3 linked regions of the Homo sapiens genome follow. The protein of the gene in region 2 interacts with the protein of the main gene of each other region in a pairwise test. Each region holds a gene or a part of one and is shown on either strand. Other genes may lie near its edges.

The links. The genes of interacting proteins can lie anywhere in the genome.
Region 1: the proteins of HNRNPF (region 2) and UNKL interact in binary tests that used the Homo sapiens proteins (3 or more experiments, as listed by UniProt).
Region 3: the proteins of HNRNPF (region 2) and TFG interact in binary tests that used the Homo sapiens proteins (3 or more experiments, as listed by UniProt).

Annotation. Positions count from the first base shown.
Region 1 is NC_000016.10:1,397,698-1,404,719, reverse strand, and holds part of UNKL (putative E3 ubiquitin-protein ligase UNKL), read left to right. Parts: intron 1-1,375; coding exon 1,376-1,552; intron 1,553-3,018; coding exon 3,019-3,152; intron 3,153-5,210; coding exon 5,211-5,346; intron 5,347-5,778; coding exon of another isoform or gene 5,779-5,878; exon of another isoform or gene 5,879-6,419; intron 6,420-6,580; coding exon of another isoform or gene 6,581-6,640; intron 6,641-7,022. UniProt on the Homo sapiens protein: May participate in a protein complex showing an E3 ligase activity regulated by RAC1. Ubiquitination is directed towards itself and possibly other substrates, such as SMARCD2/BAF60b. Intrinsic E3 ligase activity has not been proven.
Region 2 is NC_000010.11:43,406,183-43,413,754, forward strand, and holds the start of HNRNPF (heterogeneous nuclear ribonucleoprotein F), read right to left. Parts: upstream 3,005-7,572; 5' UTR 2,949-3,004; exon of another isoform or gene 2,908-2,948; intron 2,676-2,907; exon of another isoform or gene 2,545-2,675; intron 1,597-2,544; exon of another isoform or gene 1,535-1,596; intron 1-1,534.
Region 3 is NC_000003.12:100,740,479-100,747,500, reverse strand, and holds part of TFG (protein TFG), read right to left. Parts: intron 2,669-7,022; coding exon 2,570-2,668; intron 1-2,569. UniProt on the Homo sapiens protein: Plays a role in the normal dynamic function of the endoplasmic reticulum (ER) and its associated microtubules. Required for secretory cargo traffic from the endoplasmic reticulum to the Golgi apparatus.

The DNA of each region.
Region 1 (7,022 bases), on a different chromosome or scaffold from region 2:
CCCACTTGGGTGGTTTCTGCCTCTTGGCTCTTGCGAATGACGCTGCTGTGAACATGGGTGTGCAGGTGTCTCCTGAAGACCCTGCCTCCAGGTTTTTTGGATGTGTACTTAGGAGCAGGATCGCTGGGTACCAAGGTAGCGTTGTAATTTGACTTTTGCTTGGCTGGCTCCTGGGGACCCTGAGAGCCAGCCAGGCACCCCTTCTTCTGCCTCTGTCGACCCTCAGCTTTCAGTGTCTGGCACATCACAGGTGCCCAGCGGAGCCTGGGTCGGCCTCTCTGAACTCTGTGTCTCTGTTTCCTGACCTTAGAGGATGGGGCTAGACCTGGTGTTGCTGAATCGCTCTTGGTCCCCAGCCATCCCTGGCTGGAGCTCCTAGTGCCCAGGCTGCAGCCCTGTGCACAGTGAGGTGGGCGGGGCCCTCACGGAGCTCCCCAGTTGGAGCTGGAGGTGAAGGTTTCAGTCCTTACATTTGGGGGCCTGCAGTGACGGCCCATGTCATCCTCTGCCTTGGCCCTTGGGCCACTCAGGGTGATTCTGTGACCAGCCAGGGCTCGACACCATTGATGACTCAGGGTCCTCTGTGCGTCCCTTTGCCTCCTTCTGGAGTGACCTACCTGGAGGCGCCCAGGAATGCCAGAGCGGTTTGTGTCGTCTCCTTGTCTCCGTCGCTGCTGCCTGCCTATGACTTGAGCCTTGGCAGCTGCTTCCCCTCTCCACTGCACCCCATCGTGCTTCAGGAGCTGCCTGTGACTCCCCAGGAGCATGGCTCTGGGCCTGCAGGTGGCCCATGGGATGGTGATGCTACCTCACCTGTGTTCCCCACCACGCCATCTGCCGCCTCTTCTGCCCATCCCCCTCGTGTCCCCCAAGCCGCGTCCAGGGCCCTGTGCTTGTTCCCTCCCCTACCTCCCTCCTGGGGTCCCTGAAAGCAGCAGGACGCTGGGCAGGAGGGGCCCCCACTTTGTGACTGCGACGGGTAAGGAAGGTGACGCAGCCTGCGTGCAGGGCATGAACTCTCATTCCCACACAGGTTTAAAGGTTTATTTGGAACATTAGGAAGGATGAGCTTTGTGGAAATTCAGCATTGTGTTTCCTGCTGTGTTTGGCTGACTGGGGGTTTGCGATGGTCTGTGTTTCTTACTGTGTTTGACTGGTTGACTGGGGGTTTGCGGTGGTCTGTGTACCTGGGCGGTTCCACATTTGGGGACAGGTGCTGCGTCCAGTGTGTCCGTCCTTCTGATTAGAACAGGAATCTGGAAGAAGGGAAGGGAATTCACTGCTTGCCACGTGCTGACAGGGCGTGGACCCAGGGAGCTTAGGGCTGCCTCTGGGTCCATGATAACCAGGCATTGCGTGCCTCTCTGCTCCCCAGGTGTCCCTACCTGCACCGGACGACGGGGGACACAGAACGCAAGTACCACCTGCGTTACTACAAAACAGGAACCTGCATCCACGAGACAGACGCACGTGGCCACTGCGTGAAGAATGGGCTGCACTGTGCCTTCGCGCACGGCCCCCTGGACCTGCGGCCGCCCGTGTGTGACGTCAGGTGAGTGGGCATCCACGAGTGGGCACTTGGCCTGCCTGCTGCTGTGGGCTCTGCTGGATGAGCAGGAACTCGGCAAGTGGCTCGCCTCCCTGCTGCTGCAGGCTCTGCTGGCCCAAATCTCTCTCCTCCAGAATTTCTTTCTGAGTCTGGATGTTAGTCCTTTTTTTGCTTTTTTTGAGACGGATTCTCGTTCTGTCACCCAGGCTGGAGTGCAGCGGCGCGATCTCAGCTCACTGCAAGCCCTGCCTCCTGGGTTCACACCATTCTCCTGCCTCCGCTGCCCGAGTAGCTGGGACTACAGGTGACCACCACCACGCCCAGCTAATTTTTTTTTTTTTTGTATGTTTAGTAGAGATGGGGTTTCACCATGTTAGTCAGGATGGTCTCGATTTCCTGACCTTGTGATCCACCCACGTTGGCTTCCCAAAGTGCTGGGATTACAGTGAGCCACTGCGCCTGGCCTCTGGATGTTATTTCTTTCTTTTCTTTTCTTTTTTTGTTTTTTGAGATGGAATCTCGCTCTGTTACCCAGGCTGGAGTGCAGTGGCGTGATCTTGGCTCACTGCAACGTCTACCTCCTGGGTTCACGCCATTCTCGTGCCTCAGCCTCCCGAGTAGCTGGGACTACAGGCGCACACCACCATGCCTGGGTTATTTTGTTGTATTTTTAGTAGAGACAGGGTTTTACTGTGTTAGCCAGGATGGTCTCCATCTCCTGACCTCATGATCTGCCCGCCTCGGCCTCCTGAAATTCTGGGATTACAGACGTGAGCCGCTGCACCTGGCCTCTGGATGTTATTTCTAATGAGACAGTCCTTCAGCTCTTCTCACTGTGTGTTTCTCTTCTGGGCCCGGAGGGCAGCTCACTGGGGTTGAGGCTGTGAGGCACTGCTGCTTTCCAGGAGAACGAACTCAGCACACAGTCTGGGGCAGACAGTCCTTCAGCTCTTCTCACTGTGTGTTTCTCTTCTGGGTCCGGAGGGCAGCTCACTGGGGTTGAGGCCGTGAGGCACTGCTGCTTTCCAGGAGAACGAACTCAGCACATGGTCTGGGGCTGCAGAAAAGCGAATCCTGCCCACACAAAACTCCGCTCTTACTTGGGTGGGGCTGAGCATAGTGGCCCATACATGTAATCCCAGTGCTCTGGGAGGCCAAGGTGGGAGGATCGCTTGAGCCCGGGAGATGGAGACTGCAATGAGCTGTGATTGCGTCACTGCACTCCAGCCTGGGGGACAGAGCCAGACCCTGTCTCAAACAAGACAAAGCAAACAAAATGAAGTGGTTGGGATTTGGATGAGGACTGCGGGCCAGGACAGCGGAGCGCCACACACTGAGACTCCGTCCTGAACCCTTCGGCAGCAGCCTCTCTGTGCAGTGGTGGGAGGGGAGCGTGCCCTCCAGTGACCTCGTTTCAGCTTTGGAGGCTCCAGATGCAGAGCTGTGACCACTGTGTCCTCGGCTTGCAGGGAGCTGCAGGCCCAGGAAGCCTTGCAGAACGGCCAGCTGGGCGGCGGGGAAGGGGTCCCGGATCTGCAGCCTGGGGTCTTGGCCAGCCAGGCCATGATTGAGAAGATCCTGAGCGAGGACCCCCGGTGGCAAGGTAACTCCACGGCCGCAGCTGAGGGCGGTGGTGGGGGGGGCGGGCACAGCGCGAGAACAGCTCGGGCCACTTGGTTCCCTGTGCCTTTCAGTTTACGTGCAAGGTGATCAGATGGGGAAACCGAGGCTCGTGGAGTCCAATACCAAGCCCTCCCCAACAGGGGGTGGGTGCCGAGTGGGATTTGGGCCCAGGCGCCTTCCCCCGCACCTGCTCTGAATCTCTGCGGCAACTGGCATCTCAGTGGGGCCAGCCATTGACCAAGTGGCCGAGGAGGTAGCACAACTCCCACCGGAACTCGTGAGGCGTCCTGTCCCAGAGCCGGGGCGCCCACCAGGCACCCACCAGGATGCTCAGCAGAGCCCCCAGCCCACCAGGCACCCACCAGGATGCCCAGCAGAGCCCCCAGCCCTGCGCCTCTCTGGGGTGGTGCTCTAGACAGCAGCTTTCAAATCCCTGAGCTTGGCCAGAAACATATGGACCAGGGGGCTGTCCCTCGGGGCTGGGGGACCTGCATTCCTGGCTGGCACACAGATGAGGTTATATGCAGGGGAGATTTTGATTTGAAAAAAAACGTGGTAAGGCTGGGAGCACTGGCTCACGCCTGTAATCTCAGCACTTTGGGAGGCCGAGGCGGGCAGATCACTTGAGGTCAGGAGTTTGAGGCCAGCCTGGCCAACATGGTGAAACCATGTCTCTGCTAAAAATACAAAAAATTAGCCGGTTGTGGTGGTGGGCGCCTGTAATCCCAGCTACTTGGGAGGCTGAGGCTGGAGAATCTCTTGAACTCGGGGGGTGAAGGTTGCAGTGAGCCAAGATCACGCCACTGCACTCCAGTGTGGGTGACAGAGTGAGACTCCGTTTCAAAAAAAAAAATGTAAAATACACACAACATAAAATGCACCATTTTTAAGTGTACAGTCCAGTGGCATTTAGCACGTCTGCAGTGTTGTGCAGCTGCCACCTCTCTCTAGTTCCAGAACATTCCATCCCTGCAGAAGGAACCCCCCTGCTTATGAGCAGTTCCTCCCCATCCCCTCCCTGGTCCCTGCACTCACTGGCCTGCATCCCATCTCTGTGAATTTGTGTATTCTGGACATTGCGTATGGCAGCGATTTTTTTTTTTTTTTTTTTTTTTTTTTTTTTTTTTTTTGAGATGGAGTCTCGCTCTGTCACCCAGGCTGGAGTGCAGTGGCACAATCTCAGCTCACTGCAACCTCCGCCTGCCAGGTTCAAGCAATTCTCCTGCCTCAGCCTCCTGAGTAGCTGGGATTACAGGCAGGCACCAGTATGCCCGGCTAATTTTTTATTTTTAGTAGAGACGGGGTTTCACTGTGTTGGCCAGGCAAGTCTTGAACTCCTGACCTTGTGATCCACCCACCTCGGCCTCCCAAAGTGCTGGGATAACAGGCGTGAGCCACCACGTCCGGCCCAGTGAATGACTTCTAAAAATAGGCTTTATTTTTTAGAGCGGTTTCCGGTTCACAGCAAAACTGAGTAGAAAAATAGATTTCCCAAACACCCCCTGCCCCCTCAGCCTCCCCTGCCGTGCACCTCCTGCACTGCGAGGTACGCTCTTTACCAACAGTGAACCCACACTGATGTGTGCTTGTCACCCAGAGGCTGTGGTGCGCATGAGGCTCACCATGCGGCATTTCGGGGTGTGCATGTCTCTGGATTTTAGCATATTCTCAAAAGCTGTGCACACATCACCTCTCTCTAGTTGGAGAACATTTTCATCCCCCAGCAAGGAAGCCGCACACCCACAGCAGGACTCCCTCCCAGCCCTGGTGGTCTCGGCTCCACTCCGTCTCTGTGGGTTCCCTAGTTCTGGGCATTTTCACATAAACAGAATCACACCACGTGGCCTTCTGGCCCGGCTTCCCTCATGGAGCGCGAGTCCTTTGACATCAGCGTGTGCCGTGGCGTGTGTCTGCGCTCCCCAAGTCCTCCTGCAGCCCCTTCCATTTGGGGGACAGCCAGGTCCTTCCACCTTTGGTCTCCTCTGCCCAGCATTGCTTCCAGTCGCGCTGCTCAGGCACCGTGTGGCCCATTTTTCAGATGCCAACTTCGTGCTGGGCAGCTACAAGACGGAGCAGTGCCCGAAGCCGCCACGCCTGTGCCGCCAGGGCTATGCGTGCCCACACTACCACAATAGCCGGGACAGGCGGCGCAACCCCCGGCGGTTCCAGTACAGGTGAGCCTGCGGGACCGTGCTCAGAGGACTCCGGCTGGTGGGCGTCCTTCCCGGCCCGTGGCTCGCGTTGCCCACCCCGGGGTTCTAATGGGAGGGCTGCCCTTGTGGCACCATCATCCCCGGGAGGGGAGGGCATCTCCAAGCACAGTGGCTGTGGGAGGTGCCATGGAGGCCCACGCGTCTGTCCTGGGGATGGGCCTCCCCACCTACGCTCAGTGTCTCCCATGCAGTCCCCTACCGGGGCCCCTCTGCCAGGCAAGGGGACGGAGCACTGCAGGAGGGACCCCAAGCCCAGCTGGGACCCCCGTGTGCCCCACCCGTGCCTCTGGTTGCAGCCACGCTCTCCAGCCTGTGGGCTGCATGCTGTCTCCTCACCCAAGCTGCCAGGGGCTCAGGCACTGTCGTCACCTGGGCTCAATCTTGTCTTCACAGCTGGCAGCTGGGACGCCGGGTCCTTAGGCTGAGTCCCAGGGCCAACAACCCAAGGGTCGCCCTGCCCAGGGTGCACACAGGACCTTCCTCCACCGCCTGAGCCCCAGCTGTCCCCTGGGTCTGGCTTGTGGGTTTGGCACCTCGCAGCCTGCTTGCCTCTGAAGCCCCTTTCTCCTCCTTGCTCCAGCCCGGCCTTCTGGTTGTGCCTGGCCTGGCTTGCCTCCTGTCTGCAGTTTGCACCTGAGAGGGGGGTGGGGGGGTGCAGACCCCACAGGGTGTCTGGATGCCTGGGCCATGGCCTTGGCCTCCCTGAGGCCCTGTCTGTGTCCAGCTCTTCCTTTGAGCAGAGAGCCACCCTCGCCTCTTTTGAATGACCTGGTGCTGCCTCGCATGCCCCGGAGAGCACCTGTGCTTCCTTTGGGAAGGACGCCCCACTCCTTGTTGTTATGCCACGTTCAGTCTCCCTCTGAGCAGCTTCCGAGTAAAGGACCTGAACGGCTGTAGAACAAACCACAAATTAGTGTCTGAGATTTTGTCATCGCCCGTCATGGAAAGAAAATAAAAATTATTTTTTCAACAGGCACTTAATGTGTCCCATAAATACAAATCAGTTACAATAAAGCAGCTAGAGATTCCACGAAGAGTAGAGGATTTTGTTTTTTTATGAGACAGAGTCTCACTCTGTGGCCCAGGCTGGAGTGCGGTGGTGCAGTCTCAGCTCACTGCAGTAGGAACATAGGTAATTTGAAATTGGTGCGGAGTTTTAAATTGTGGGATCAAAACTCTCGCTTCCATTTTATAGAAAGTTGGCGAGGAGACAGCCCCGTGCTGTCTGGGCGCCCGGCCTCACTGTCCCCAGGAGGTTCGGCTGCTTCTCCCCTGCGTTCTCCACGTCCGTGAGGGTGGCTCTGACTGAGACTCAAGTTAAATTCTGTGAAGAACAGCCCCGGGGCTCCTGACCCCATCCTGGCACTGGCCGGGCCTGCGTGTCCGTGAGCGCAGAGCTGCGTTGCCTGTCACTCCAGGGCCCCATGCCCGAGGCCCCTCCTGGTGGGAGGCAGACACCCCTGGGCACACGAGGAACCATGTTTTCCTGTGTCCCCCTGACACCTCCTCATCCCCAGGTCCACGCCCTGCCCCAGCGTGAAGCACGGGGGTCGGGGTGGGGGAGCCAAGTCCTCTGTGTCCCCCTGACACCTCCTCATCCCCAGGTCCATGCCCTGCCCCAGCGTGAAGCACGGGGG
Region 2 (7,572 bases):
ATTAGAGAAGTCACCTCCAAGGAAAGGGCCTGTCACATTTCTGCAGCCCCTGCAGGCATCTACCCCCACCGGGCTCTCATTTGCCTCCAGGCTTTCCAAGGTTCTGGCCACGTGGGAGAAGTAACTTTCTATTTACTCAGTCTTTTCCCTTAAATAAATTCCATTTTTTACCTGAATAAAGCTTTATAACGCTACCCTTAACAGAAAACTTGGCAGTTTACAAAAAAGTGGCCGGGCACGATGGCTCACGCCTGTAATCCCAGCACTTTGGGAGGCAGAGGCGTGAGAATCGCTTGAGCACAAAAGTTTGAAAATCAATCTGGGCAACATAAGGAGACCCCATCTCTACAAAAAATACAAAAATTTGCCGGGCGTGCTGGAGAGTGCCCGTGGTCCCAGATACTCGGCGGCTGAGGTGGGAGGATCCGTTGAGCACAGGAGGATCTCGGCAGCGAGCCGAGATCACACCATTGCACTCCAGCCTGGGCAACAAAGTGAGACCCTGTCTCAAAAAATAATACATATTTTTTTATAGAGACGGGGTAGGTCTCTGGGGCCCAAGCGATCCTCCCACACCTCGGCCTCCCTAAATGCTGGGATTACAGGCGTGAGCCACCTCGCCCGGCCGATAATGACTCTAATCTACAGAATGCACACCGGAATGTAATACCTACAAGGGAAAAGATCTTCTTGCTTAGGAATAAAGCAATCTCTCTCTTAATATTCATTAAAGTAGTAATGTCTTATTTTATAGTTTATAAATTCTGTGAGAGCAACGAGTCACTTTGCAGGAATAGCACTTAAGGTATCTTTCACCTACCTGGAGAACCCAAGAAATTTTCATCTTACTAGGAATTCAGAGACAACCACGTATTTAACTTTTAAAAATATAACTAAGTAGAAAGAATTATATGCGTGTATTTTTGGAAGAATTAAGATGACTTTTGGGACGGAACGACTGAAAACTACGCTTTCAGAACTCCCTGCCGCCTGAGGCTGTGGCCCTGACCCCGGCGCAGGGCCCGCCCCGCGCGGTTCCGGGAAGCCGCCGCCGCCGCCCGTTGCCCTTCGCGCGCAGCCGCCAGCGCGCGCCTCGCGTCCCGCCACGCAGATGGCCGGCCCGAGCCCCCAGCGCCCGCGAGCAGTTTCGAGAACTAAAGAGGCGCGTCAGCTCGTCCCCGGGCCGCCCGCGGGCAATGGCCGAGCTCGGCTCTCCTTCCACCCTCCGCCGGGACACACGCGGAGCCGAGCGGGGGTCCCAGGCGCCTAGGGGGAGGGGTTCCCGCGCCCGGGGCGGCCTTGGGGGGAGGGCGAGTCGGGTGCCTTGCTCCTCAAAACCCTGGTCCACGACTCTGCGGTTGGGGGAGCCGGGCAGCCGGCGCAGCAGGAGCCGGGCCCCGTCCACAAGTTTCCTACGAGCAGGGCGGAATCGACGAAAATACTTAATACAAACAAACAAAAGGAAAAAAAAAAGGACGACTAAGCTGAAGAGCGCGCACGAGTCAGATTTTCACCCCAAATACAAACACGATACCTCTAGGAGCAGGAGACCAATACAGGGACCGCGCTCCGAGGACACGCGGCGCAGCCGAGGAGGAAAAAGGGCCCGGGGCCGAGAGCTAAGGCTACGGGAACCGGGCGTGGGAGGAGGGCGGAGCCAACTCCCCACAAGGAAGTCTTGTGCAACTCTCAGGCGCCTGCAGCCACGTGAGCGCGCGGCTTTCATTTTACTCAGGTATTATTACTATTATTACTTCTTTTGAGACAAGGTCTCATTTCCGTCGCCCGGCTGGAATGCAGTGGCACAATCACTGTCACTGCAGCCTCGACCTCAGAGCAAGCGACCCTCCCGCCTCAGCCTCCCGAGTAGCTGGGACAACAGGCGCGCGCCACCACACGTGGCTAATTTTTTTTTCTTTACTTTTCAGTAGAGACAGTCTATGTTGCCCAGGCTTGTCGGGAACTCCTGGGCTCAAGAGATCCTCCCGGCTGGGCCTCCCACTGCGCCAGGCCTGTTCTCACTTTCAGAGCCCTCCGGCAGTCGCCAGCTCCCCGCCAGGGGGCCGGACTAACGCACCCGGCCGTCCGTGCCTTCCCCGCGCTTTCCTGACTCCAAAATCTCAGCCCGCGGTGCTCACCGCGTGGGACCACTGTCTGGGCGTGCGGCTCTCGACCTCCGACGCTGCGTCTCCCGATCCCAGTGGGTCCAGTTCTTGCCGGTCCCACGTACGGGCCCCTCGACCTCGAATCCCGTCACCCAAATCTCAGCGCCACGGCCCCTCATTATGTGCAGTCCTCGCTCGGTCCCAGGTTTGCGGCGCTTAAACTCAGATCGCTCTTCCCTGATCCCAAATCCCAGCCCCAGCCCAACGATCCCCACCCCAATAGGCCCAGTCCCCAGGTAGTCCGGGTACGGGGCCCTGGACTTCGGATAGTCTCCCTAATCTCAAATCCCACCCCCCGTCCCCACCCCCAGGGGGACCCGGTCCCCGCTAGGTCCCGGGTGTGCGGCCTTCGACCTCGGAGACTTCGGCCGCCCCTCACCTCGGCCTCCGAGTCTCTACACTCCCGCTCTCATATCAGGCACCCCGGTGGTCCCTTGGAGCACCTAGAGGAGGGTGGGACGCGGGGAACTTGGCAGTTGTAGCAGAGGCAGTTGAGGCTTGTTGACCATCACCATGGAAACCCCCGCCTGCGAGCACGGGGCGGAGCCTACGAGGGGCGGGGTCAGGCGCGCTGCCGGCCCCAATCCTCAGCGCCTGCCCGTCGAGCGCACGCGGCTTTGCCGGAAGCCCTCCTGCTCCCGGCGAGCCAGGCCCCGACTAGGCCCTACTGCCCGGCTCAGCCCTTTGCCCTGGACACCAGGAAACAGAAGCCCAAGGAGCCCGCGTCCCCACCCCCTGCTACCTGCCGGCGTGACAGCGATTCGGTGGCCCCCCGAACCCCACCTTGAGGAAGACGCGGCGCAGTCCTGCTTCCACGACGGAGCCGGAAGGACGCAAGGACCGCGGCAGGGCGGAGTTTCTGCGTCCGGCGTCCGGGGGCGGGGCCGCGACGGCGCATTGTGACGCGCCAGAGCTGAGCCGCCGGTTGGCCGGCTGGGCGCGGAGCAGAGCCGACACGGCTGGCGGGGGAGGCGGTGGAGGCGGACAAGCGAGGACGTTTCTGGAGAGGAGAAGGGAGGGGAGGGGAGGGGATAGGGGGAGGGGGAGGAGGAGGAGGGAGTGGAGCGGCGGGAAAGATCCCTCTGACTGCCCCTGAGGCCCTGGAGGAAGGACACTGGTGAGCCCCGCAGGACACTGAAATGTGCGCCGAAAGGACGCCTGATGGAAGACTAGGATGGGAAAAGGAAATGAGAGCCGATGGCAGGGCGTGGTGGCGCAAGCCTGTGGTCCCAGTAATTTGGGAGGCTAAGGCGGGAGAATCGCTTGAGCCCGGGAGGTCGAGGCTGCAGTGATCCGTGACTGCTCCATTGCGTCCAGCCTGGGCGACAGAGCGAGGCGCTGTCTCAAAAAATAAAATAAGGAAAGTAGTACACTGAAGGCCGGGCGCGGTGGCTCACGCCTGTAATCCCACCACTTTGGGAGGCCGAGGCGGACGGATCAGGCGGTCGGGAAATCGAGACCATCCTGGCCAACATAGTGAAACCCCTACTAAAATACAAAAAAATTAGCCAGGCGTGGTGGCGCGCGCTTGTAGTCCCAGCCACTCGGGTGGCTGAGGCAGGGGAATCGCTTGAACCCGGGAGGCGGAGCTTGCGTGAGCCGAGATCGCGCCACTGCACTCCAGCCTAGCGACAGAGCGAGACTACGTCTCAAAGAAAAAAAAAAAAAAAAGGTACACTGAGTACTCCGGAGACCGCCTAAAGGGGTCTCAGAGCAGGGCGTTAGGAGGGATTTGTCAGGTTGAAGTTGCTCAGGTGATAAATTCCGTGGTGTGAGAAGCCCCCAAACCTCAGAATGTAACTCAGACCCAGGTCGAGGGCAAGATTTTCAGTCACAGAGCACCTGAACACACAGATTTGGTGGCTAATGGCTAAGCCAGGGACAGATTTTCTTTCTTTTCTTTTTTTTTTTGATGTATTGTAGGGCTAATAATTGTAACCATTTTATTTTGGTGGATCTTCTTCATGAAGAGATGATGTCAAGGCACTCATCACAGGTTAAGCTGAACATTGTTACTATTGTTATTATTTCCAGACTGAGTATCGCCCTGTCATTCAGGCGGGAGTGCAGTGGTACAATCACGGCTCACTGCAGCCTCGACCTCCTGGGCTCAAGCGATCCTCCTGCCTCAACCTCCTGAGTAGCACCACCACTCTCGGCTAAATTTTGTATTTTTTGTAGAGGCGAGGTTTCGCTGTGTTGCCCGGGCTGGTCGGGAACTCCTGGACTCAAGCCATCCGCCCACCTACGCCTCCCAGAGTGTTGGGATTACTGGATTGAGCCACGCATCTGGCTGAACGTTATTTTTTAAATCACCAGAGAAAGTAAAGGAGTGCTCAAAATAGTGTCAGATGATGAGTGGGATGATTGTGATGAAGGAAGGAGTTTGTTAAAAGAAAAAGCTAGTTCCAAGAAAGAGAATGGAAAGAGTAAAGCAGGAGCTGTCAGAATAGGTAAAAATGTCCAAAGAGAAAACTGCATAATTTGAGGCAAAATTACAGAAAATAGTTCCTGCAAAAATCAGATAGGTATTCAGCATCATAGGAAAGGGGCGAAAATCAGATAGGTAGGTATTCTTAAGAAGTTGTGGCCGGCCGGGCGCGGTGGCTCGCGCCTGTAATCCCAAGACTTTGGGAGGCCGAGGTGGGTGGATCACCTGAGGTTAGGCGTTTGAGACCAGCCTGGGCAACATGGCGAAACCCTGTCTCTACTAAAAATACAAAAAAAAATTAGCCGGGCGTGTTGGCGCGTACCTGTAGTCCCATCTACCCTGGAGGCTGAGGCAGGAGAATCGCTTGAATCCAGGAGGTGATGGTTGCAGTGAGCCGAGATTGCACCATTGCCCTCCAGCCTGGGTAACAAGAGCGAAACTCTGTCTCAAAAAAAAAAAAAAAGTCATACAGTGACTGCATCACAGCTCATGCTGTAGAAAGATGTTTCTGGAGAGAAAAATTCAAGTAGCCAATTTAAATCGAATATTAGGAAAATTAAACCAAAAGGGCTCACGCCTGTAATCCTAGCACTTTGGGAAGCCGAGTCAGGCGGATTACCTGAGGTCAGGAGTTCAAGACCATCCTGGCCAACATGGTGAAACCCTGTCTCTACTAAAAATACAAAAATTAGCCGGGCGTGGTGGCACATGCCTGTAATCTCAGCTACTCAGGAGGGTGAGGCAGGAGAATTGCTTGAGCCCAGGAGATGGAGGTTGCAGTGAGCCAAGATTTTGCCACTGCACTCTAGCCTGGCCGACAGAGCAAGACTCTGTCTCAAAAAAAAAAAAAGAAAGAAAATTAAACCAAAAGACTAGTAATGCTTCAGAAATTAGGGACTGTTAAACCAGCTGCAAGAAGATATATTCATGCAATCTTTGTATTAAGAGTCTCTCTGGCTGGGTGCGGTGACTCAGACCTGTAATCCCAGCACTTTGGGAGGCCAAGGCCAGTGGATTGCTTGAGCCCTGGAGTTCAAGACCAGCCTGGGGAACATAGTGAGACCCAGTCTGTATTTTAAAAGTTAAAAAAAAAAAAAAGCCTCTAAGCTAAGTGGACCTTTGATCCCCTCACTCAAATTTGACAGTTCTCCATTATTCATAAATGAGGTAATAGTTGTTGGAGACGGTCTTCTCTGAATGCAAGACTAGTACTTTGGCCTGATTATAGAACTTCCTGCCGTCCTAAGGAGTCATCCCAGGTGTCCACTATATCTTTTTCAGCATTGAGTACCAGCACAGTCACATGTAGGCTTTATCCCACAGTGAAGACTTGGCATCACTCAGAATGATGCCACAGGTCCTAGGCCTTTTCCACACTGGGCTCACTTCACCAACTCGCAAATGCTCATCCACACCTGGTCCACCTGGACTACCTCCTTATCTGTAGCCCTTTCACCTCTGTGTCCATAGAAATGTCTTACCTAAGCTCTGAAATCTAAACATTCAGAGAGCACCTTGATGCTTGAGAGCATCTACACAGAGATGAACCTTTAAGATCTATGGTTTAAAACAATTGAATTCCAAGATGTTGCCCCTTACAGACTGACCTGCCTGATTATTTCCTGTTGTTTATGTACATTGATTATTATCAAAAACTTAATACTTTATTTTTTTTGAGACGGAGTCTCGCTCTGTCGCCCAGGCTGGAGTGCAGTGGTGCGATCTCAGCTCACTGCAAGCTTCTCCTCCCGGGTTCACGCCATGCTCCTGCCTCAGCCTCCCGAGTAGCTGGGACTACAGGCGCCCACCACGGCGCCTGGCAAATTTTTTTTTATTTTTAGCAGAGACAGGTTTTCACCGTGTTAGCCAGGATGGTGTCAATCTCCTGACCTCGTGATCCGCCCGCCTCGGCCTCCCAAAGTGCTGGGATTACAGGCGTGAGCCACCGCGCCCAGCCAAAAACTTAATAGTTTTTAATAAATATTGTCAGGTTTTTTTTTTTTTTTTTTTTTGAGACGGAGTTTTGCTCTTGTCACCCAGGCTGGAATGCAATGGCACGATCTTGGCTCACCGCACCCTCCACCTCCCAGGTTCAAGCGATTCTCCTGCCTCAGCCTCCCGAGTAGCTGGGATTAGAGGTGCCCACCACCAGGCCCGGCTAATTTTTGTATTTTTAGTAGACACGGGGTTTCGCCTTGTTGGCCAGGCTAGCCTTGAACTCCTGACCTCATGATCCACCCGCCTCCGCCTCTCAAAGTGCTGGGATTACAGGCGTGAGCCACCGCGCCTGGCCAATATTGTCAGTTTTAAAAAATAAGTTCCCCTCTAGACACTACTTATCCATACAATTGGTTACAGGTTTGGAGCGTTACAGAGGTTTTTAAATCTTCTACTCAGTAGTTCTTGAAAAATCACCTTACCTATTAAGCTGAGATTCCCCCTTCCCGCAAGACGGTGCCATTAAGTAGGCAGGGATCACCAAGGTTCAGAGATGTCTCTTGCTCAAAAATCATAGTATCTGTTAAATAGCAATAACCGTAGCTAACACATACTGCATTCTCACTATGCTTTGTGCTATTCTACTTAATCCCACTGAAACCTGGTAACAACCCTGCAGTAGATACTACCACCATTTGGCGGAAAGAAACTGAGTCACCCAGCTTCTAGATGGCTGAGCTGGAAGTTGTATGGAGGCTGGAGGCCCCATCTGATTCCAGGGTCCGTTCTCAACTACTGCAATCTAGATCCTAGCGAGAAACGGGCTTTTCAGGCTGTCTCCTCCCTTTCCCATCTGAGAGGAGAATGAAGGAAGTGAGAAAGCCAACTGACCTGTCTAGTCAGTATAGGCCCTGTCTAAATGTCACTTTTCTCCTTGAAGCGAGGTGCTCTAGGAGGCAGAGATAACCCAGGTGGGAAGAGGCACATTCGGCAGTGACAGCCTTGTCTGGTTAATTTTCATGACCAATATAGAAAAGT
Region 3 (7,022 bases), on a different chromosome or scaffold from region 2:
GAAAGTCTGCTTCACTGAAAACTTTTATCTCTACCATGAAACACACCTGCAGCTACTTGCAATGAAACCTCTCCATTGACTGGAATCCTGTCAGCATTAAATACCAGATACATAAGAAAATTATTAAAATATGTACAACCCTGCATTAAAAAAAAAAAGGATTGAATGAATTTGAGTATATTCTGAACTCACCTTGAACCTGGGTTCAAAATTTACTCATGAAAGAAACCTTTATGACATAGTCCATGAACAAAACTGGAAAAGGTCAGAGGGAAACTGGCAAACCAACAGTGTCAAAGATGGTCCAATGTTACCACCACCACCTCTTAGTCTCCAAGCAGAGTATTTAGTTGACTATTTCCATATCTCTCAATCAAATTCAAGTTAATAGACTAGTAGGATCAGAAATACAAAGATAATAATTTGAAAAGACTAAATTTTACTCAGAGTGAAGACCCTGACTAAATTTATTAAGAGCAAGCTTAGTTCTTAATAAGTAAATCAAGTATCTTTAACGCATTAACTCATGGTAGCATCTAAATACTGACCTGAAACCAACTCATAAAAAATTCTGAATGTCATACAAGTTCTCCTATCCTCTACATAAAACTTAAATTTTCACTATAAGGTTTTGAAGAAATAGATGGATTCAGCTTTATACTGAAAATGCCTATTCATTTTAACACTGCGAGAAAAAAGAAAAGTGCCTTTTCATCCTGGCACCTGAAATCTGAATTGTTTTTTTTTAACTGGGCCTGGAAGTAATCTGATCCTTAATTATTGCTTAGGGGAGGGAATAACCCTACAGGCTGAAGATTTCATTAGCAGCCCACCAGTCTCTTGAACATAATGTGGCAATGCTTCTATCATGTGTGTGTGTGTATATATATAGTCTCCCTTCCGTCCCTCCAAAATAATAAATAACTTTAGGTGAAGGACATCAGAAATAGCAAAAAAATGGAAATATGGAAATTATGTGAGTTTTTTTTTTAATACATAGGACATCTAGCCTTTTATGGAGTAAGTCTGCCAACTCCAGTCTAGGTTGTAGAATGCAGAATGATACAGGGAAATACTGAACTGATCCAGCTCCCTCCACTGAATGGCTGTATGTGCTTTGACAAGTCACAATCTCTTTCAAAACTAGTTGCCTCATTTATAAAATGCAAACGCCTGAGTCCCACACCCAATCAAATGAAATTCAAAATCTCTGGGAATGGGGCCCCACACATAGCCTCCCCCAGGTGATTCTAAAGCATAGTGAGGACCGAAATCCCGAGATTAAATGATGACTAAATCTCTTCAGCTCTGCTATTCTTTCTATAAATAACATAGTTTGTAACACTGATTTTTTTAAAAGAACTGCATCCTAAAAATAACCTTCCTCCTGATATAATCCAAACTTAAGTTCTATGTATTTTATACAATTAAAAACAAGTAGCTACAAGTTAAGTCACTCTACAGCAAATACAATCTAAATAAAATTGTGTCAAAATATTTCAAATTTTAATTAATGACAGAATGTTATGGTCTAGGTCAGGAGTCAGCAAACTTTTCTGTAAAGAGCCAGATAGTAAATAGTTTAGGCTTTGTGGGCCACATGGTCTTCTGTTGCAACTACTCAACTCTGCCATTCTAGTGCCCAAGTAGCAGTAGAGAATATAAAAGTAGAAGTGTGTTCCAATAAAACTTTATTCAAAAAAACAGGCAATAGTCCAGATTTGGCCTGTGGGCTATACTTTACTGACTCCTGCTCTAGCTGATACCACAAAACTCTATAAAATAGAATTTAGACTAGATTCAACCTGCATAAATTATTTCTAATTACAGTTGAAATTCTGATACTTCAATCTTTGGCTGTAAAACAAGAGTTGGACACAAACTCTCTGACATAACTGTAAAAAATACTGGAATTATAGCCAAAGTTACATTAATAATATTTATCATACTTAAATACATATAATCTTCAGTGGACAGATGGTAAAATAGAAACAAAATACTCAGGATGCTTATTTAAAACAACTAAACAATGTTCTTAGTTGCCTGAATTACATTTTATACGATTTTATTTTTATGGCCTATTTCTGGTATTCCTACATACTTGCAAGAGATTTTAAAATCTAAGTAGCTTAATTGAGCTCTTATTTAAATAACATCACCTTTCCATGTATAGTAAACTGTTCATATTTCTACAGGTACTAAGAGTACACTGGAATTACGTGTTACATATAAATGGAGAGGTGGAGGGAAGGGGGAAAACTTGCACTAAGTCGCCTAAGAGATAAACTGATAATGTTAGTAAGACAGCTTTGTATTAAAAACTTTTTATACTACAAGTTACTGCAGAATCATCTACTGTAAGTTTTATCTCCCCACCAGAAAACTGAAATGTTGATTTACAATATTAATGTAAAATATTTAAAAATAAATAAAACAAATGTTGTTTCCCCTAATAAAAACTTAATACCTATTATATCAATGTACTACAAATCAAGGAATTAAGAACTTAAAGTTTAATGAGTATAGAAACAAAAAACCATGAGCCAACTCCCTTTCAACACCTGCTCACCTGAATACTGAATACCATACTGTTGAGGCTGCTGAGGTGGAGCCTGCGGCTGCTGTGCACCATAGCCGGCCTGTTGCTGGTACTGTTGGTACATCTGACCTGAAAACACACACACACACACACAAGGAAAAAAGGCATGTTTAATGTGGCAAAGAGAAATATTTTTAAGATACATATACATTCCCTCTCCATCCAAACAGAGTAACAATATACAAGAAAGTATTTGTTCAACTTTAAATGTCTATGAAGAAGAGAATGAACCATTTTAGAAGTGTGATTCCTCTGCTGTGGATTAACTGCAGAGAACTAACTGGCAATAAACATTAAGTGCAACACCAGTGGCTACCATTTCATAAAGTCTAGAAAAACAAATGTTTTCCAACCCAGCTGCCAACAGATAAGTAACGCTAATGTTCATTAAAAGCCAAGTGAGTTGAAAATCAGTAAATAAAAATGAGAAAAGGGACAAATACCATTTATATCATCTAAGTCCTTCCTAAAGCACTGTATTTGCCCTCTAAAGGTATGGGCCTCTATTACCATATGAACAAACTCTTTGGTAGCAAGGAACTATATGACATCTTTTGTTCCAGAGCTGAAAGACACTTTTGGAATTTGTCAAGTTTGATTTTCTATGAATATCCAACATCTTTTGCCAATAACGTGGACTCTAATAAAGTCTAAATGGTTCTTCATTGCACTATTTAATAATGGCAGACCTTTTTAACAACGGTGATGTGTTCTTGAACATGGGAGTCCTATTTGTCCTATTTGGGGTCAACAACCACTGTTCCTATGAAGAAACCCTTTAGACACTTATTACCTATGATTTTTCTTTTTACTTTTTATTTTTCTGTCCTCACAATCTGTTCCCATACCTGTGATTTTCAAGCAAAGATTTATTGGTTTATGTCTTTATTATCTCTACTTCTCAATTATTTCACAATGGTTGATTTAGCTAGATGTAATATCTAGTAGCAATAACCTTGCATTTTAATATCTATCTGGTATTTAAATCTTTAAAATAATCACATGTTGGCTGATTCTTTGAAAAATATTCAAACTACCTATTAATCAAAAGACTATGAGCAAACCAGATACTTACTGCTGAAGTGAGAAAAAAAAAAAGACATTATATCAACTCCCACTCAAATCGAGCTGCAGTAGGCAGCTAGGACTCACAGGCTTAGAAAATGAGACGGAGCCCACTCTATTATACCAGCTGCTCAGCCCTATACGTGTCTAAGTTTTTAGTGCTGGGTAGCACTAAAGGAGATACAACTATGTTTATATCCAGCTTATTTCCTAGCAAATGTTTCTTTATAATAAAAAAAGAATACAAATAAAAATCAGCTCAACTATTTTAAGCTATTTATCCTATTCCCAAATATGACAAGAAAAAAAAAGAAACGCTTACAAAAGTTTCTTAAATGCTTTCTTAATGATTTAGACTAATAGCATAAAAGGTAGCACAGAAATTAACCAAATTTAGATGCCACCTTAATCCTGGATTGTACTTCATAACTAACTTTCGGAATAGAAGTGACCAGAATCTAAAATAAAAAGGTAAGTAGGTACAGAAATATAATCAAGGGGAATAAATACGTATAGCACATAACAATGAACTCTTAATTCTTGAAAATTAGAAGGCTTAACTCCACAATAAAAAAATAAGCAAACAGGCAATAAACACATTTAAAAAAATTCAACCATATTAGTATTCCTTATCTCAGATACAGAAAAATTAAGCAACTTACCTGCAGTCAATAGCTAAGAACAGAACCATGAAGAGCTAAGAACCATCACTGGAACTCAGGCATAACTCCAAAGCTTTAGTTTATAAAGTCATTTTGCATATATTATCCCATGAACAAAACAATATAAATATTAACTTGGGCATCATCAAAAAAGGCTGAGATTAAGGTTCCACGTAGTAGTAGACTGTGGTCATCAATGAGTAAGGAACTCCTGGTCAAAACCACAGTTATTCCCCTCAATAAAAATTTATAGGGTACAACTCTTCATAAAGCTTTTTTTTTTTGCATGTTTTCATAAACTGCTATAAATTGATTTTGAAAAACATCCCTAGAGTTAAAAATTTCAGAGGTTTATTATATCTCTACACAAGATTCCTTTTACACAGCAGATCCTCAAATAACATCTTTTGTTCGACATTGTTTCGTTAAAACACTGAGAAGGAAAAAAAAATTATTCCCAGTTGGGGTTACTGTTCTGTGTAGAGTCTGCACATTCTCCCCAAGTCTGTGTGGGTTTTCTCTGGGCACTTCAATTTCCTCCCACATCCCAAAGATGTGTATGTTAGGTTACTTAGCATGTCTAAATGATCTCAGTCTGAACGACTATGGGTGTGTGTGTGGTTGCAATGCACCCTGCAATGGAATAGCAACCTGTCAGGGTTGGTCCCCACTTTGCTACTGAGCTGATGGGATAGATTTCAGCCACCCACAACCCTGAATTGGAATAACTGCATAAATCATTATCTTATTTGTTTTTATTAATCTTTCTTAAATGTATCTATAACTCACATTTGTTTTTAGTCTTTATCTAGAAGTCTGGGGGTATTTTTGTGATCAGAGATATGCTGTAGGAACTCAACTTACTCATATCAATTAGCCTATGGTAGAACTGATTTCCTCATACGTCATCTCACTTAAAGTTACAATTTCCAAGAACCTATCAACAATGTTAAGTGAGGATTTACGGTACTTACTTTAAACCCACCTCATTCAAGTCCAAATGGGACTGTCACAGTATTCTGAAAATTAATTAAGAAGTCTGTTTAATTGTTTAAAAAAAGAAAAAGGATGAACTTCTTCACATACTTGAGAGATCTATAGGATATATGAAGAGAGCAAAATGCAGACATTGTTTATAGTAAGCAATGTTTTGAGTAATAAAAAATATGGTCATGCATTGCTTAATGACAAGAGTAGGTTCTGAAAATTGTGTCACTGTATAATCATATAGTATACTTACACAAACCTAGATGTATATAGCCTACTACATAGCTAGGCTATATGGTACATAGCAGTCTACAAACCTGTAGAGCATGTTCCTGTACTGAATACTTAGGCAATTCTAACACATGGTAATTATTTGTGTATCTAAACATATCAAAACATAAAAAAGGTACAGTGAAAATATGGCAAAAAAGATAAAAAATGGTATGCCTGCCTAGGGCACTTACCATGACTGGAGCTTGTAGGATTAAAAGCTGCTCCAAGTGAGGTACTTGTGTTGAGTGAATGTGAAGGCCAAGGACATTACTGTGCACTACTAAAGGTTTACAAACGCTATACACTTAGGCTATACTACATTTATTTTTTAAAATTCCATTTCTTCAATAAATTAACCTTAGCTTACTGTAATGTTTTTACTTTATAAACTTGATTTTTTAACTTTTTTAATACTTTAGCTTAAAGTACATTGTGCTACTATACAAAAATATTTATTCTTTATATCCTTATTCTATAAGCATTTTTCTATTCTTTTAATTTTAAATTTTTACTTTTTTAAACATTTAGAAAAAAATTATGACACAAACATACACATTAGCCTAGGCCTATACAGCATCAGGATCATTGATATCACTATTTTCCACCTCCATATCCTGTCCCACTGGAAGGTCTTCAGGGTCAAGAACATCCATGGAGCTCTCATCTCCTATGATAACAATGCCTTCTTCCGGAATACCTTCTGAAGGACCTATCTGAGCCTGGTTCTACAGCTTTGTTTTTTTTTAAATAAGTAGGAGTACACTCTAATGATTTAAAAATATAGTATAGTAAATTCACAAATGAGTAAGAGAGTCACCTATCATCATTATCAAGTATTAGGTACTACCCATAATTATGTGAGCTACACTTTTATATGACTGGCAGTAAGTCTGTTTACACCAGAATCACCACAAACACGTAAGTAATGCCTTGTGCTACATTATGATGGCTACACATCACTAGGCAATAGAAATTTTTCACCTCCATTATAATCTTATGAGACCACCATCATATATGCAGTCCACTGTTGACTGAAATGTTATACAGTGCATGACTATATATAAGCTATGTTTTATGTATATTTTCAAAAAGAATCAATGACAGAATAAAGTAAAAAGTAATAAAAAAAATTAAGGGGAAAAGAGAACAGGATGAAGCAAAGAGTAATGGTAAGACTTCTGGGAATTATTTATTACACAGAGTAGCCAACCTCTATCATGACCCTCAACGGCTTCTGCACATGTATAGCATTTATGACAATGGGTTGGTATCGTTTATATTCTTAGAAATTAGAAAGATTTAACTCCACAATACAAAAATGACCAAATAAGCAACAAGCACATGAGTATCTGCTCCCTGTTAGTCCCTCACATACTGAATAGGGCTGACCTGTATACCAAGAAAATATTGCAGAAATGACAGTGACATTTCTGAGG